2 separate regions of the Homo sapiens genome follow, and region 1 is linked to region 2. Evidence: fine-mapped expression QTL. A gene starts in region 2. The other region holds a variant in brackets. All regions are shown on one strand. Distances are from middle to middle.

Region 1 (4,395 bases), 170 kb after region 2:
TAACCAAATTAACAGTACAGGTTGAGCATCCCTAATCTGAAATACAAAATGCTCCAAAATCCAAAATTTTTTGAGCACCAACATGACCCAATACGTTGGGTCCTATTCCCAGGATCTCTTATTATATATATATATATAAATGTTCAGAAAATCCAAAAAACTTTGAAATCTGAAACACTTCTGGTCCCAAGCATTTTGGATAAGGGATACTCAACCTGTAATAGAATATATATTCTCTTCAAAGTATACATGAAACATTTACCCAAATCGATCATATTCTAGGCCAGAGGTTATCAAACTATGGCCCTGAGGCCAAATGTAGTCTGTTTTTGTATAGTCCATGAACTAAAAATGGTTTTTACATTTTGAAAGATTTCTTTAAGAAGAAAAGAAAATATGTGACAAAGATCATATGTGGCCCACAGAGTTTAAAATATTTACTGTCTGACCCTTTAGAGAAGTTTGCCTGCCCCTGTTCTAGGCCATAAAACATGTCTCAGTAAATTTTAAAGGATTCAGATAATGCAGAGTATGTCTTCTGACTACAGTAGAATTAAAATTAGAAATCAATAACAGAAAGCTGTCTGGAAAATCCCCAAATGTTTGGAAACAAAATAACATGCTACTAAATAACCTTCTAATAACCCATTGATTAAAATAGGAGTGCAGTAAAATTAGAAGGCATTTTGAGCTGAATGAAAATGAAAACAAAGCATATCAAATTTTGTGGCATGCCACTAAAGCAGTATGTAGGAAGACATAAGCAAAATGCTTATATTAGAAAATATAAAAAGTCTCAAGTTAATGAGCTTCCACCTTAAGAAATTAGAAAAGAAGAACAAATTAAACACAAAGAAACAAAAGAAATAATAAAGATCAAAGTAGAAATAAATGAAATGGAAAACAAAATAAATTGAGAGTATTAATGAAACCAAACCCTGGTTCTTTGAGATAAATAAAATTGATAAATCTTTTGCCACGCTGATCAGGAAAAAAAAAAAAAAAAGAGAGAAGACACATATTACCAATATCAGGAATGAGAGGTGAAATATGACAAATTCTACAGATACTTAAAGAATAGCAAGGGAATATTATGAAAAACCTTAAGCAAATAAAATTCAACAACTTAGATGAAATGGTCAAATTCCTTGAAAGACATAACTACCAAAGCTTACTCAAAAAGAAGTACAGCCAGGTGCAGTGGCTCACACCTGTAATCCCAGCATTTTGGGAGTTTGAGGTGGGCAGATCACTTAAGTCCAGGAGTTCGAGACCAGCCTGGGCAATGTGAAGAAACCCCATCTCTACTAAAAATACAAAAAAATTTAGCTGGGTGTGGTGGTGCATGACTGTAGTCCCAGCTACTTGGGGGGCTAAGGCGGGAGGATCGCTTGAGCTTGCGAGATTGAGCCCTGATTATGCCACTGCATTCCAGCCTGGGTGAAAGAGTGAGACCCTGTCTCAAAAAAAAAAAAAAAAAGAAAAAAAAGAAAAAAAAAAGAAAAAAAAGAAAAAAAAAAGAAAAAGAAATAGATAACTTCCAAAGCTATGTATCTATTTTTAAAAAATTAATAGTTAAAAATATTCTCACAAAGAAACACTAGTGGATTCTTCCAGACACTTAGGGATAACACTGTGTATACCAATTATATACAAATCTTCCAGAAAACTGAAGAGGAAGGAATACGTCTCAGTTTATTTTTGGGGGCCAGCATTACCCTGATACCTAAACCACACAAAGCCATTACAAGAAAAGAAAACTATAGCCCAGTTTCCCTCTTGAACATGGATGTAATAATTCTCAACGAAACTTTAACAAGTCAAATCCAACAAAATATAAGAAAGTTAATATTACTGGATGAGGTTTATCCCAAAAATATGTCATTGCTTTAAATTAAAAAATTAATCATTGTAAGTCACTATATTAAGCTAAAAAAGAAAATCTGATCATTTCAATAGACACCCAAAAAATCTGACAAAATCGTATATTTGTTCCTGATTTTAAAAAACCAAAAACAAAAAAAACAAAAAAAACAAAAAAAAAACCAAACCTGTTAGCAAACTAGGAATAGAAGGGTACTTTCTCAACCAGATAAAGGACATCTATAAAAATCCTACAGATAGCCTTATGCATAATGATGAAAAACTGCATGCTTTCCCTTTCCCCGTAAGATAAAGAATAATACAAAGATATCTGCTCTGACCACTTTCATTCAACATCAGAGGTTCTG[T/A]CCAGGGCAATCAGGCAAGAAAAAGAAATAAATCGCATTCAAGTTAGAAAGGAAGAAATACAACTGATGATAGCCATCATTCCTAAGAGTTCCCCTTGCCTCTTTATAATCCTTGCCTCCTCTTACCTCTCTCCCCAGGAAACCACTGGCCTGTTTTCTGTCACTAGAGACCAGTTTGCATTTTCTAGAACTGATATATGTGGAATCATGCAGTATGTTACTCAATTTTTTTTGTCAGTAATTGGTAGCTTATCTTGCAATCAAAGTTCATATACAACCATTTGATCTTCATTCCATTCCCTCATTAGTCCATAGAATGTCAATCAATTTTTCTTTCTTTTATTTATTTATTTTAACGAAACAGGGTCTTGTTGTGTTGCCTAGGCTGGAGTGCAGGCTTACTTCAACCTCCAACTCCTGGGCTCAGGTGATCCTCCCGCCTAAGCCTCCAGAGTAGCTGGGACTACAAGGGTGTGTCACCATGCCTGGCTAACTTTTTAAAATTTTTTGTATTGATGGGGTCTTGCCATGTTGCCCAGGCTGGTCTCGAACTCCTGAGCTCAAGACCTCCCAAAGTGCTGGGATTACAGGCATGAGCCACTGCGCCTGGACTCAATTTCTGTATGATGATGACTTTCATATGTACATCAACAGGCCAGATAGCTTATCAAGAAAGCTTCTCCTCTGTCTTCTAGTAATATCCCACTTAGATCTGACATTATTTTTTTCCTTCAAGGTATTTCTTCCAAATTTCTTGGCTGTTGTTGGTGACAACACAAGTTTTTGGACCTTTAAGTTTACAATCTTAGGTTCATTTCCTTATTTTATTTCTTCCCTATAGGTAAATGATCACTAAACTTGTTACTTCTTATAGTTACTTCTTTGTAAGGCACTGCAGATATGTTTCTTTTCATTTTTAAAATTGCCCATTTAATTCAAGCTATTAAATATCAAGCTTGTACTATATCAAGAGTACTATATATCAAGACTATAGCCTCTTGATATTTTCCCTACCCTCCCATCCTGCCATACCCATGTCTCCACTAGCCTATATAAAACATAAAATACTTTTCATCAAACTCTCTGTAGAGAAGTGTTGCTGGGCGAATAAGAAAAACCTGATTGACTAGAAAGCAAATGTAAATGTAATCTCCTTTCTTTTCAGTGATTCTACCAGAAAGGAATGAAGAACAGAACCTTCAGGAATTGAGTCACAATGCAGACAAATATCAAATGGGAGATTGTTGCAAGGAAGAGATTGATGATAGTATTTTCTACTAGCCATTGGGAAGATAAAAGGAGACAGAAGATTGAAGCCTTTGCCAGCCATTCTTTCCCTTTTTGCTTCCAAACTCCTCAACTGGGAACCTTCATATGTGCAGTATTTATATTGGATCATACTGGTGATTATAAAAGTTCCTAGGAGGCTAGAAGAGCCAACCAACAGAGAAGGGAAAGCAGTCTGTTCTGAACATAGGGACATAAGTTCATTCATGCCAAGTATCTTTCCAGCATGTTTCTCCCATTTAGAATATCTAGCATGTAAGGCCTTTCAATATTAATATAAGCCCAATATCAGCTCTTTCTCTTTGTATTTCATCTCTTTCTACTCTCCTATTTGTATTTTGTGTTCCTATCAAAGTGTCGTATCTGGGAGATGACCTGCCTTATCCTGTTCTATAACAGTTTTGTTTGCTGCTGTGTCTTTAGAACAGTGCCTGGCACACAGTAAGCACTCAATAAATCTTTGATGAATGAATGAATGGTTATCTTTTCTCTCTGGCAATCCAAATTCACCACTCCTTAAAAATTCTACATAAGATTTGCTGGCTGGGCGCAGTGACTCACGCCTGTAATCCCAGCACTTTGGGAGACTGAGACAGGTGGATCACCTGAGGTCAGGAGTTTGAGACCAGTCTCAACATAGCGAAACCCCATCTCTACTAAAAGTACAAAAATTAGCCGGGCGTGGTGGCAGGCGCCTGTAATCCCAGCTACTTGGGAGACTGAGGCAGGAGAATCACTTGAGCCCAGGGGGGCAGAGGTTGCAGTGAGCTGAGATCACGCCACTTCACTCCAGCCTGGGCAAAAGAGCAAAACTCCGTCTCCAAAAAAAAAAAAAAAAGATTTGCCTATTCCAGCAGACTTCTACCCAATATCAATC
Region 2 (4,395 bases):
AAAAAAAAAAAAAAAAAGAAAAGAAGAAGAAAAAACTTCCATGCAGTTAGAAAATTTGGAGATGACATTACTCTATTTCATCCAGTTAGTAGCTGACAGTTGCTGGACAGCTTTGGAGAAATAAAACACAGTGGAATGAGTATATCTGACCAGCTCTTCCTAGAGGAAACAGATGACAGAGAAAAGGAATGCTCCAAAGAGGAGACTGCAGTAATTCAAGAGTCTAACAGTAAAGATAGGAAGAAGTGCTGCAGTTGATCATGAGTTCCAGGAATTATGTATGGTTGTCCTTCACTATATTCTCAGCACTTATAACAATGCCTGCCACCTGATAATTGCTTAATAAATATCACTTCAGTAAATGAGTAACTGAAATGGAAATATTTTCTGAGGAAAACTATAGAATTTGAACTCCATCGTCTATAAATAATGATGGATAAAAAATAATTTAAAGATTACTTATGTATTAAGGTTCTGTACTACATTTGGGAGATCTGAGAATTAAAAGTAAATACACACATACAAGGTGATTATATAGTTATCACATTTAGTATGTGTTATACAAAAATACAGTGGGCAGAGTGTTTCCAGAATTATAAGGAAACTGGGCGAGAGAGTTTTATCATAAATATTAAGAAGTGCCTTTTTATTTCAATGCACTGTCCTTTAAACAATCAGAAACGTGTAAAAAATCAAAAGTGCAGAAGTACAGTTAGAATAAAATAATCCACAAAAAGACAGTACTCTAACTGAAATAATTATATTGGGAAATCTCTCCTTCTAGAACCACATTCCAGAAGCATGAAACTACCTGGGAAAAGTCTAAGAAATAATAAGGTGGTGAAAGAGGCTATGATGGGAGAGGAAGAATGTTAGATAAATTATATGGATTTGGAATTAAAAGGATAAAGCAAGATGCAAAGGAGCAAAGTGCTATTTTATTTTTCAACAGTTAGACCTGTTGGGAAGAGGCCAGTCAGATGAAATTACAGTACCTCTCACAATGACTAAGGAGTCGGGCAATGGGAGGTTTTAGTTGAAATGGCAAGTTCTGACCTGAGGTGCGACTTCAGACTTCTGCAGTCTGCCTTGTTTCGACTTTAGGAGGTGAGAGGAAAATTACTTCCAATAATATAGGATTCAACCTATAAATGATGGGGCTCAAGAGACAGGACCGACAGTCAGGGCAGGAGGAGGAGCAAGACCGGACCTAGAAGCATTCTGAAAATGTGTAGGTTTTCACTGGGGCGCGCCAGAAGGGCACTCTCCGCCCCCTCGCCCGAGGACGTGTGACATCTCCGGAGGAAGCCTCCGAGATTCCTGTGAAAATGGGAGGTCCACACGCCCATTCGCGATGACAGACACAGAGAGGGCTGCGCAGCCTTGAACACAGAACCGGGCCCAGGTGGAGTCCGCCGGCTTCTGGAGAGATCTGCGAGACGAAATGGTGTCGGCGCAGCGTCGCCGGCGCGGCGGGGCAGCGTGGGGACCCTCTGACCCTGAAGGTCCCCCTGCCCGCCGCGCCCGGCCCCCGTGAGCCGTTGGGTCTGGGGAAGGGAGGGCCCTTACCCATGTGCTGCGTGTCCAGCTGCACGGCCGGCATCTCCTTCAGAGGGATGTGGCCAGTCCCCCCGTCTCTGCAGCACCGCAGGCAGCACAACACCGAGGTGGCCATCGCGCAGGGACCACCGACTCCGCCGCCGTCCCTAGACCGAGGCGACACTGCCCCCCGCCGCTCAGCTCCGTCTCCTGCCCCCGCCCGAGGTCCGGACTTGTCTATGTGGAGCTCGGAGGCCGGTACAGCGACACCCTAGGCCGGGAGGGCGCAATGCAGGCTGAGCTTAGGCTGGCCTGCGAGGAAGACGCGGAGAATCAAGGGGCCGGGGAGAGACCGGACAGGGCGAGCGGCCGGGCTGGGCCGGGGAGACGGGTGGGGCTAGTGGCGCGCGGAGGCGTGGCAGGGGGCGTGGCGTTGCGGGCCTGCGGATGTGGGACGGCGTGCGCCTGCGCACCAGCTGGTTTTTTCTCCTTGGGCGGTTTCGCGCACGCCCCCAGGGCTGACAGGTGAGTGGGGCTGTCTGTCCCTCAGTACTTCCAGGGGTTTTCCTATGCAGAATTTTTAAAACGCAGCACCCCTTGGTCCCGGCCTCGACATTATTTCTAGGGATGGATTGACAGAAGCGAATCAGTTTGGGGGAAGGGGAGCTAATGGAAATGACTTCCGAGTTTTCCCTCCGCGGGCCCAGGTTGAGCAGGCTTTGCCACCACGGAGAGCCCCAGTCTCCCTGCCGTGGCTGGTTTCCCTCACATGCTAAATAGACTCACGTGGGCCCCAGGAGTAATGCCTGTTAGTGACTGCACTGTGGATGTTCACCGGGGCTCACGCGGGCCCTAATGCATTTTCGGTGCAGAGACGCGCCCTACCTGGCCCATCGGGCTGCGTGGTCCGGGGCGCGTGGGAGGCCGCCCTGGGAGCAGAACGCTGGGGCGGGGTCGGGGGCGATTCTTGACCTGCCTCTTCCAAGCTCCCCCTGTCTGGTGCACTGAGGGTTCCGAGGAATGTGACGGGAACCCAGGAGGCTGCGGGAAGTCTGCTGGGTCCCGAGGGAAGCCTTCGGCTCCTACCGTCCGCTACTTTCTGCTTCCACACGGGAGGCTGTCACCTGTCATCTCCTTCCCCACTTAGATCATCCTTCCGTGGTAGATTTTACATCTTCAGGCCGGGTGCAGTGGCTCACGCCTGTAATCCCAGCACTTTGGGAGGCTGAGGTGGGCGGATCACCTGAGGTCAGGAGTTCAAGACCAGGATGGCCAACATGGTGAAACCCCGTCTCTACTAAAAATACAAAAATTAGCTGGGTGCGGTGGTGCACGCCTGTAATCCCAGCCACTCAGGAGGTTGTGGCACGAGAATCGCTTAAACCCGGGAGGCGGAGGTTACAGTGAGCCTAGATCGCGCCACTGCCCTCCAGCCTGGGCAACAGAGACTCTGTCTCCAAAAAAAAAAAAAAAAAAAAAAAGATACCGCTTGGCATCTGGAAATGTCTGGGACGACCTCTAGAATTAACCTAGCTCAAACCTCTGTTCCCAGATCAGTTTCATCCTGAAGGCTTCCCTAGGGATGGATCATCAAGTCCTGGGAAACTGGACATAAAATGCCCACTACTTAAATAATGATTTCCCATACGTAACTTTTAGTGACCCGAGTTATAAATGTTTTTTAAGGAGGATTTCTATCTATGCAATGAGGGGAATTTTTCAGGTTCCTGGTTCTCTTTCTATAAATGGTGTTTTCATTACAATACTAAGGGAAAGTTTTGTACGTTGAAATTAAGTTACCATAGAATTTAATAACCAAGGTGATTATTAAACTGATTGAGGGTTGGTCTTTTCCCCCATTGCGTATGCAGTACTTTCTTGGTAATCATTTCACACAAGAAATTTTCTTTTATGACAAACCTTCATCGTTATGCTGGGAATTAAGTGCTTTGATTTTTTTTTTTTTTTTTTTTTTTAACCCCAGGGAAGTGCTGGGGGCGGGGCAGGGGGTGAGAATTTTAACAGAATATTGGAGAGACAAAATTTTTCTACCGTTCATATATATATATCTAGTTGAATTATTTCAAGATTTCAAGGTCAGTATTGTCCCCATTTTATAGGTGAAGAAATAGGCCTAGAGGTACTAAACTTTACAACTTCAGGTGAGCAGGAGATAAACAGGTAGGATTCAAGGCTTACCAGTCTGATTCCTGTTAGAAGAAAAACTTCAGCTGAACTAAATTTAAAGGAGTTAAACTGAGCAGTGAATGACTGGGCAGCCCCCAGAATCACAGCAGATTCAGAGAGACTCCAGGGATGCCTCGTGGTCAGAACAAATTTTTAGACAAAAAGAGGGAAGTGACGTACAGAAATCAGCAGTGAGATACAGAAACAGCTGCATTGGTTACAGGGGGGCGTTTGCCTTATTTGAACACAGTTTGAACAATCAGCAGTGTATGACTGGTTGAAGTATGGCCGCTGGGATTGGCCAAGACTCAGCTATTGTTACAGGTGCATACTCCTAAATTAGGTTTTCAAGCTTGTCTGCCTATTAACCTAGGTTACAGTTCGTACACAAGGACTCAAATACAGAAGTACAGAGTCCTTCTCAGGCCATATTTAGTTTGCTTTAACACTGCCTCTCAAATTCTTTCTCTTATAATTAATGCTATAATCCTCTTAAACATGCTCTCAGTTCAAAATGCAGATTTGCCCTTTTTTGTGTGTTTCATTTATCTCCACATTGGATATAAGCTGCCATAATGCATGTATAGACAAAATATAATAGAATTAGTTGTTATAAAGTAAAAATTTTGTTCAGAAATATTATTAAAAGAAGTACATGTATTATATATG

The links. PIP is the estimated chance that this variant, and not a neighbour inherited with it, causes the effect.
Region 1: its variant is the best candidate, but not a certain one, in a credible set for the expression of SPRYD7 in lung (TOPMed, PIP 0.81).

Annotation. Positions count from the first base shown.
Region 1 is chr13:50,101,308-50,105,702 of GRCh38, forward strand. All of the region lies in intron 1 of DLEU2 (deleted in lymphocytic leukemia 2), which reads right to left. The region is part of intron 2 of DLEU1 (deleted in lymphocytic leukemia 1); the gene reads left to right. Among named protein-coding and RNA genes, the nearest start is that of DLEU1, 21 kb to the left of the region's middle. The variant T/A (reference allele first, on the strand shown) is at 2,232.
Region 2 is chr13:49,934,561-49,938,955 of GRCh38, forward strand. It overlaps SPRYD7 (SPRY domain containing 7), which reads right to left and starts at 1,780. Exons shown (of 5, transcript NM_020456.4): 1 at 1,570-1,780. The coding sequence starts at 1,675. RefSeq lists enhancers at 1,591-1,840, 2,711-2,760 and a silencer at 1,881-2,130.